Linked DNA regions of Homo sapiens. The protein of the gene in region 1 purifies or fractionates together with the protein of each later gene. This does not show direct contact. Each region holds a gene or a part of one and is shown in the gene's direction. Other genes may lie near its edges.

The links. The genes of interacting proteins can lie anywhere in the genome.
Region 2: the proteins of PALMD (region 1) and MIPEP purify together in Homo sapiens (affinity purification with mass spectrometry, with the first as the bait; one study listed by BioGRID). This does not show direct contact.

The regions. Positions count from the first base shown.
Region 1 is NC_000001.11:99,649,047-99,652,702, forward strand, and holds part of PALMD (palmdelphin), read left to right. Parts: intron 1-3,656.
Region 2 is NC_000013.11:23,865,316-23,868,971, reverse strand, and holds part of MIPEP (mitochondrial intermediate peptidase), read left to right. Parts: intron 1-3,656. UniProt on the Homo sapiens protein: Cleaves proteins, imported into the mitochondrion, to their mature size.

The DNA.
Region 1 (3,656 bases):
AGAGAATAAGAGCAAAATTATGAAAGTATGCAGAAACAATTGTTCAAGGGTAGATACTTCAGTTTGGGTATACCAAATATAGATTCTATTTTACACAATTACTTTCATGTTCTTCCTTAATACTTTATCCATGCACCAACTCTTCCCTTACTAAATTAATGGTCAAAGTACCCCTTTGCCTAGAAGTTCAGTTTTCAACTATAATTTAAACACAGGGCTGCTTAAAATTAATTAACTATTATGTTTGATCTTTAAAATGTCTCTTGAGGCCCTTTTCAAGTCAGTACACACTTGAACAAATAGCTGATCTTTCTACAAAAGGTGAGCTAATTGGAATTCAATAGTATTTTGAAATAGACTAGTAATTTGAAATTCACCTTTAACAATACTGGAACTGAGGATACCAATGACTCCAGCATTCTCGAGAAGAGTGAGATGAAGAAGCGTGAGATGAAGGACTGAACGTACCACTGACAGAGTTATCCCTACAGAGTTACTGTCTGAAAGTGAACGTGGCCCACACTGAAGAACAACGAAAAGGCCCAGGGGTCTCTCCTCAGAAACACAAAGATTCCCTTAGGATGAGTAACATTCCGTATACTCTTAACATCTCCTCCACAGCTAATACATTTTCTTACCCCCATGCCTACAGCGACATTGGAAAATACCATTACAAATATGGATATGCTCAAACTGGAAAATTAGATCTTAAACTGTCTTGCGATCATAGACTCAGTTCTATTTGAAGGATGAACTCAGAGGAAGTTTAAGAACTAGAATCCAATTTCAGAGAACAGACTCAACTGAGAAAAAGAGAGTAAGAAGAAAGCTGACATTTTTATTCTCCTCCAGGCTTACCTTTAACTGTAAGGAATGTGTGTTATCAACACAGTCTCTCATGCCTTTATTCAATTAATGGTTATTAGGCACCTACTATGCACCAAGCCTTGTGCATTTAAATGAAAAGAAGTGAAATAAGGGGAGTCTGGAATGTGAGGAGTGGGGATGGGAGTGCATTGTAAGTTAAAATAGAGTGGTCAGGATGGGGTTCACAAAGAGGGTGACGTTTGAGCCTAGATGTGAAGGAGGTGAGTTCTGTCAAAAGTTAGACAATAAAAATAATCACAAGTACAAGCACCTGCCTAGGACTGCCTCCATTTGGAAAGGAGCCATATAAAGTCCTGACACTGGAATTTGAGCAACAGAGCCAGATTTTGCCGGCCAAAGCTGCTCATAATGAAAAAAAAAAAAAAAAAAAAAAAAAAAAAAAAAAGCTCTCACATTTCCCCTGATCAACTCCCTACTGCTTTCCACTCCCAAATACCCAAATAAATTTTTCTTGACTTGTAAATATAGGAATTTAAGAGACATGGAGTTCTTTACATAAAACAGAAATCTCCACAGTACAAAGACCAACATTAAAACAAGAACATGAGCACGGATGGGTTCTAGTTATTTCTTTAGCACATGTTCCCTGTTACAAGTGTCTCTGGGCACTCTACCTCATCTTGTTCCCTTTTTGTCAATATCTGGGCTCTTCTAACAGTCAGTAAGACAGTTAGTGACCCAAAAGCAAGACCTGCTGTGTGATTTGTGGGGCCCAAAACACAAGGGAATTGTGGTGGCCCTTGTTCAAAAAATATTCAAAATGTCAAGGTGGTGACAACAGAGCTTTGATCTAAGTGCTAGGCCCTTCTGAGCATGATGACCTGGGTGACTTCACAGGTCACAAACCCAAGAAGTCAGCCCTGCTTCTGTATTCCAGACTGGCCATACATATTTTTCCTTATTCGTTCTATCTGAACAAATAAGAGAGTAAAAACAAGTGTAAACTAGTCTGTGTCTTTAACAAAGGCATACCCTAACACGTGTTTGGATCATTGTATTATTTAGAGCTCTAAGGAATTCTTAAAGTACTAGTGGCCAAAGAATGCATAATGCCCCATTGTTAACCAACATACCTCATGATTAAGACATAGTTAGAGGAACAACTTCTAATTTGTCAGGAGCTTCCAAAGAAATTCACATGAAGATGGTACATGAAGATGTAGCAGTCTTCTAAATAAAAAAGTCCCATTCTGGAATATTCAACAATGAAACCTCAGCACAATTTTCCACAGTGCTGTACCAAGATTACATGTTTCTTCCAGAGAGGGAAAGGTTTCTTCAAACAAATGTGGTACGCCACACTTCTTTGCCAAACATAACAGCCCACCCATAAAGGACACCATGTGATGAGGTATAATAGTTTTGATAGCTCATTAAGGAAACTGCTTTTTGATAACTGGGGAAGGTTTTTCCACTGTGCAACAAAATGATAATGCTACTTTGCTAACTCCTCTACTGACAAAGATCCCCATGAACTTTCTGAACATTACTGGATGGTTGAAAGGAAAAGCTGCTTCTTTAGAAAACTGTGATTAAAACAAATTAGAGAATAAGCATCTAAGACTAACCAGAGTATAAACAAATGCAACACAGTTCAATTCTAAAACTGCAATAGGACTTCCACTTTTTAATCTGCAGTCTCTAACTACCTACCCTCTCTTAAAAAGAAATAAGAATATTTTAATTTATTTAAATGATAGTAATGTCATTTTGGGAAGAGACTCCATGAAAATTTACCACCTTAAGAAGTTCCCTTACCCAGAACCCTGTGGCATGCACATTTTCCTAAAACATCATCAAAGCAGTTTGAATGAGATCTATACTTAAAGTTTTTACATAAAATCCCAGGGACTGAGAGGATTCAGTCAAGCCACTTAAGAGGTAGAGCTAGGTTATCCTCAGGAGTTCTGAATGGAACTCAAAACTAGCTTCTGTCCTAAGCATCAAGTTTTCAATCTATTAAATGTATCAGTGATTGACACAGGATGATGTAACATAGCAAAGTGGGCTACAACAGCTATTCCTAATCAATTACGCTAACAACTCTGGAATAAAATGGACATCTCCTAAGAAAAAGAATTGTGAGATTTCTAACAATAATAACAGTGCCTATTCTTACATAGCATTTAGGCTATGAAAAATAAAACTTTCACATCCATTTTATCTCATTTGTCCAAGTAGTCCTATGAGTATTTTCAAAAGCATATGTTATCATTCCCATTTTATGGCAGAAAGCCTAGGCCAAGAAAAGCTAAGGAATTAGTCAAATGTCGGAACTTGAATCTATTCCTCTGCTCATCAGATTTTCTGACCACAGCATCATGACAAATTTTTATAAACATCAACATCACACCCCTGACCCCTGTTCAGGACTTCCGTAGATTTCTGGCTGGGCATGGTAGCTCATGTCTATAATCCCAGCACTTTGGGAGGTTGAGGCAGGCGGATCACTTAAGGCCAGGAGTTCAAAACCAGCCTGGCCAACATGGTGAAACCCTGTCTCTACTAAAAATACAAAAATTAGCTGGGCATGGTGGTCTGCGCCTGTAATCCCAGCTACTTGGGAAGCTGAGGAACGAGAATTGCTTGAACCTGGGAGGCAGAGGTTGCAGTGAGCTGTGATTGCGTCACTGCACTCCAGCCTGGGTAACAGAGTGAGACTCCGTCAGAAAAGAAAAGAAAAGACAGAAAAGAGAAAAGGAAAGGAAAGAAAAAAGAAAGAAAAGAAAGGAAAGGAAAGGAAAGGAAAGGAAAGGAAAGGAAAAGAA
Region 2 (3,656 bases), on another chromosome or scaffold:
TAAGAGAATGAAAGATCAGTATGTTTACTGAGGTCAAGGTTAAATGTAGGTTAGGTCATATAAAAAACACACAGTCAGATAAGCCTCCTTTTCAGAGAGAAGAGTACTGCTTAGGAAGGTTTGTGCTAGGTGAGGTGTTACGGAAGTGTGTCGTTGGGTTTGTCATAAACTTGCCTTGTGCTATGTTGAGTTCCTTATGATTCATAATGTCTAAGAGAAAATGTTACACAATAATAATATAAATGTACATAATACGTTTTTTCAGAAGCATTTATTAACTTACAGTTGTAATTTAGGTGGTGAGTCAGGAGTAGGGTGGCCGTGATGATGGAGCTGCGTGAGACTCAAGGTCTTGGCAGTGAAGTTGCAAGACTTAGTGAGGGTGAGAGGGAGGAGGAGGCATTGTGGTGGGCCCCCTGGGTTTCTGGTTGTACATCTGGTTAGACATTCCACTCACCGACAGAGGGGACACTGGGGGCAGATCACAACCTGAATCCTCGCTTGTCTTTATTCCTTCTGTGCTTATCCCTTCTCACCCTAGCATGTTCCTCTCTTCTCCAAAGTTCTCTAAATGCACTCAATCTTACTTCTTACTCTTTCGTAAACAACTGTTTCCCTTGACCTGTCAGGGCTCTCGGTTAAGCTACAGGCGTGTCACGCTCATTGCGGCCTGGGTTCCCTTGCTCGTGTCACTCTCCTATGGAGAGCAGCTTTTCTTCCTGGTCTGCCTGTTAAAATCTTACCCCGTTTTTTTAGTGCTCAGCTCAAAACCCACCTCTTTCATGAAGCTGGTTAAACTTTTTCACTTTCCTTGGACTCCTTTGTCCCCGAACCCTTAAAACACTTACATTTTTTTTCATATAATCGAAGCTCCTAAACAGATATAATATGTATGTTATGTATTAAATGTGTGTTTTTAGTGTATGTTTTTTCTTTTTTTGTAAGTATCAGTTTGGTGAAAAGTATGTTTTTCTGTAGTCGCTGTTGTCAACAGTTTGATTATAATAGTACCATATTTTTATTTTATATTTATATAAAATAATAATATTAGAATATCATTCAGTGCTTATCCTGTTGTTATCTCATTTCCTTCCTCTGCAGCTTTGTGAGGTAGGTATTTGTATTCGTGTCACAGATAAGGAATCTAAGGTTAGGTTATATTGCTAAAATGTGGCAGAACTGAAGCCTAAACACATATGCTACATTTATGGTTTTCCACAGGCTGCTTGAGACCTAATGCCCTATGTTTTATATCATCTACATCCCCCTTTTGTTTATTAATTCAGCAAATATTTACTGATTGCCCACTGTATGTCAGATATTATTCTCGGTCAGGGAAATAAGTCAGTGTACAAAGCAGAAGAAAATTCCTATCCTTATGCAGTTTACATTCTTGGGAGCAAGGGAAGAACAGTAAAGAACGAAATAAGTAGATAAAGTATGTGGTATGTTATTAGTTAATACAAGCCATGGAGAAAACTGAACAGGGAAGGGGATAAGGTATGTGGGCATGTAGGCTGGTGTTGGAGTTTTAGAGAGCATTGTCGGAAGGCTCACTTAGAATGTGGAATGTGAGCGTGCTCTTGACAGACACAAGCATGAGGCTGTGGCTCTTGAGGGGAGAAAGGTTTCACGCAGAGTCACTATCAAGTGCTAAGGTCTTGAGGCAGAAAAATGCCTGCCACGTTTGAGGAGGGCAGAGTGGCTGAAGCGCAGCGTGTGCAAGGAGAGTGGCGAGAGGTGGGAACAGACTGACAAGGGGCGGCATTAAGTAGAGACTTGATGCAAGTGCAGCAGGTCACTGTGGGGGTTGGGGCAGAGGAGTGAGATGATCTGACTCCAGTGCTAATGGTGAGTCAGTGCTGCTGTTCCTGAGAGAAGACTGCAGCAGGGCCAGGGTAGAAGAGGGCCTGTTTAGATGCTGTTTTGCAGTAACCATGATGAGAAGTGTTGGCATCTTGACCAGGTGGTAGCAGGGAAGGTGGTAAGATGTGATCAGATTCTGGGTACAGAGTATTTGGAAGAGGGAGCCAACATTTTCGACCTAAGCAACTAGAAAGAGAGTGAGTTACTACTGTTAACTAAGATTGGGAGGACCGGAAACTTGGTTTGTTTCAAGTTAAGTTTGAGATACCAAATGAGGTTCAAGTGGTGAAGTTGGGTAGGCAGTTAGATGGAGTGTGGAGTTCTGAGCTTCATATGTAAGTCTGAACCTCTAAAATGAGATTCTGATACCACTAAGAGAGTGAACTTAAAGAACAAGTCCAAGGACTGCGCTCTGGGGCCTTCAAGTTTAAGAGGCCAGGCATGTGAGGAACTGCTAGTTAACGCTGCCAGATGTAACGGCCACTAAGGGAGGTGGAAAGTGATTACAGGGTGTGGTCCTGGAGGCCGCGCAGAAGGTCTGTCTACAGGAGAGGGGAGAGATCAGCTGACTCATGCTGTGGCCAGGTCAGATGTGAGGAGGGCTGGGCATGACCACTGGCTGTAGCAGCGTGGAGCTCACTGGACCTGCAGCACCCAGCTCCAGATTCCGTGACTGGCAGGTCACCCTTGTGCACTAAGTGCTTGGTGTGCTGATGTATTGGCAGGGGGCTGTTGTGCACATCATCACGTAAGATGTGCTCTGGGTCCTTGAGGATTTAAAGCTTAGTTGAGGAGCTGGATATATGCATATAAAAAGATAAATAATAATAGAGGTTGGCACGTTTTCGGTGTCGATGGAGTAGTACAGACAAAACAATGCCATGGGATTTAGGAGCTCGGGGCATTTGTCAGATGCATCTGTGGCTGTGGAAGGCGCCCTGAGGGAAATGAAACTGTCATGCACAGTGATGGAGTGAGTCCTCAGCAGAGCAGAAGGAAGACAGAGAGGCTGACTGAGGCTAAGGCGGGCATTCATGTGGCTAGTGAATGAGGAGGTAACTGCGGTGAGGCACTTAGTGGGGGGTTTCAAACTGAATCTTAATATGACAATTCTCTGGGGACACTAATTGAGGCAGGCCAGATGTGGTGTCTCATGCCTGTAATCTCAGCACTTTGGGAGGCTGAGGCAGGCAGATCACTTGAGGTCAGGAGTTCAAGAACAGCCTGGCCAACATGGTGAAACCCCATCTCTACTAAAAATACAAAAATTAATTGGGCGCGGTGGCGGGTGCCTGTAATCCCAGCTACTCAGGAAGCTGAGACAGGAGAATCGATTGAACCCTGGGAGGCAGAGGTTGCAGTGAGCCGAGATGGGACTTCTGCACTCCAGCCTGGGCAACAGAGCAAGACTCCATCTCAAAAAAAAAAAAAAATTAATTGAGGCAGATTCTTCACATGTAAAATGACTGGAAGAATAAGATGGGTGAATGTTAAAACACGGTTATTAAGAAATAAAACGTATACAAGCATACATAGGGATTCATTTGAAAACAGTTTGGTATGGTACCTGGAATATAATCCTAAAATGAGATTTCATTGTTGACTAAATAATGTCTTTGTTCCCCAAAAATTCCTATTGTTGTTTCATATGGCACATGAGCCAGTGTTTTCAGAATTCGTATACACAGGACTTGTTAAGTATTGACAGTGGCAAGAAACCTCATGGTTTGGGTTTAGGTTAACCACCATTATTTATTTCCTTAGTCTTTTATTTCACTCAAAAGGAGATA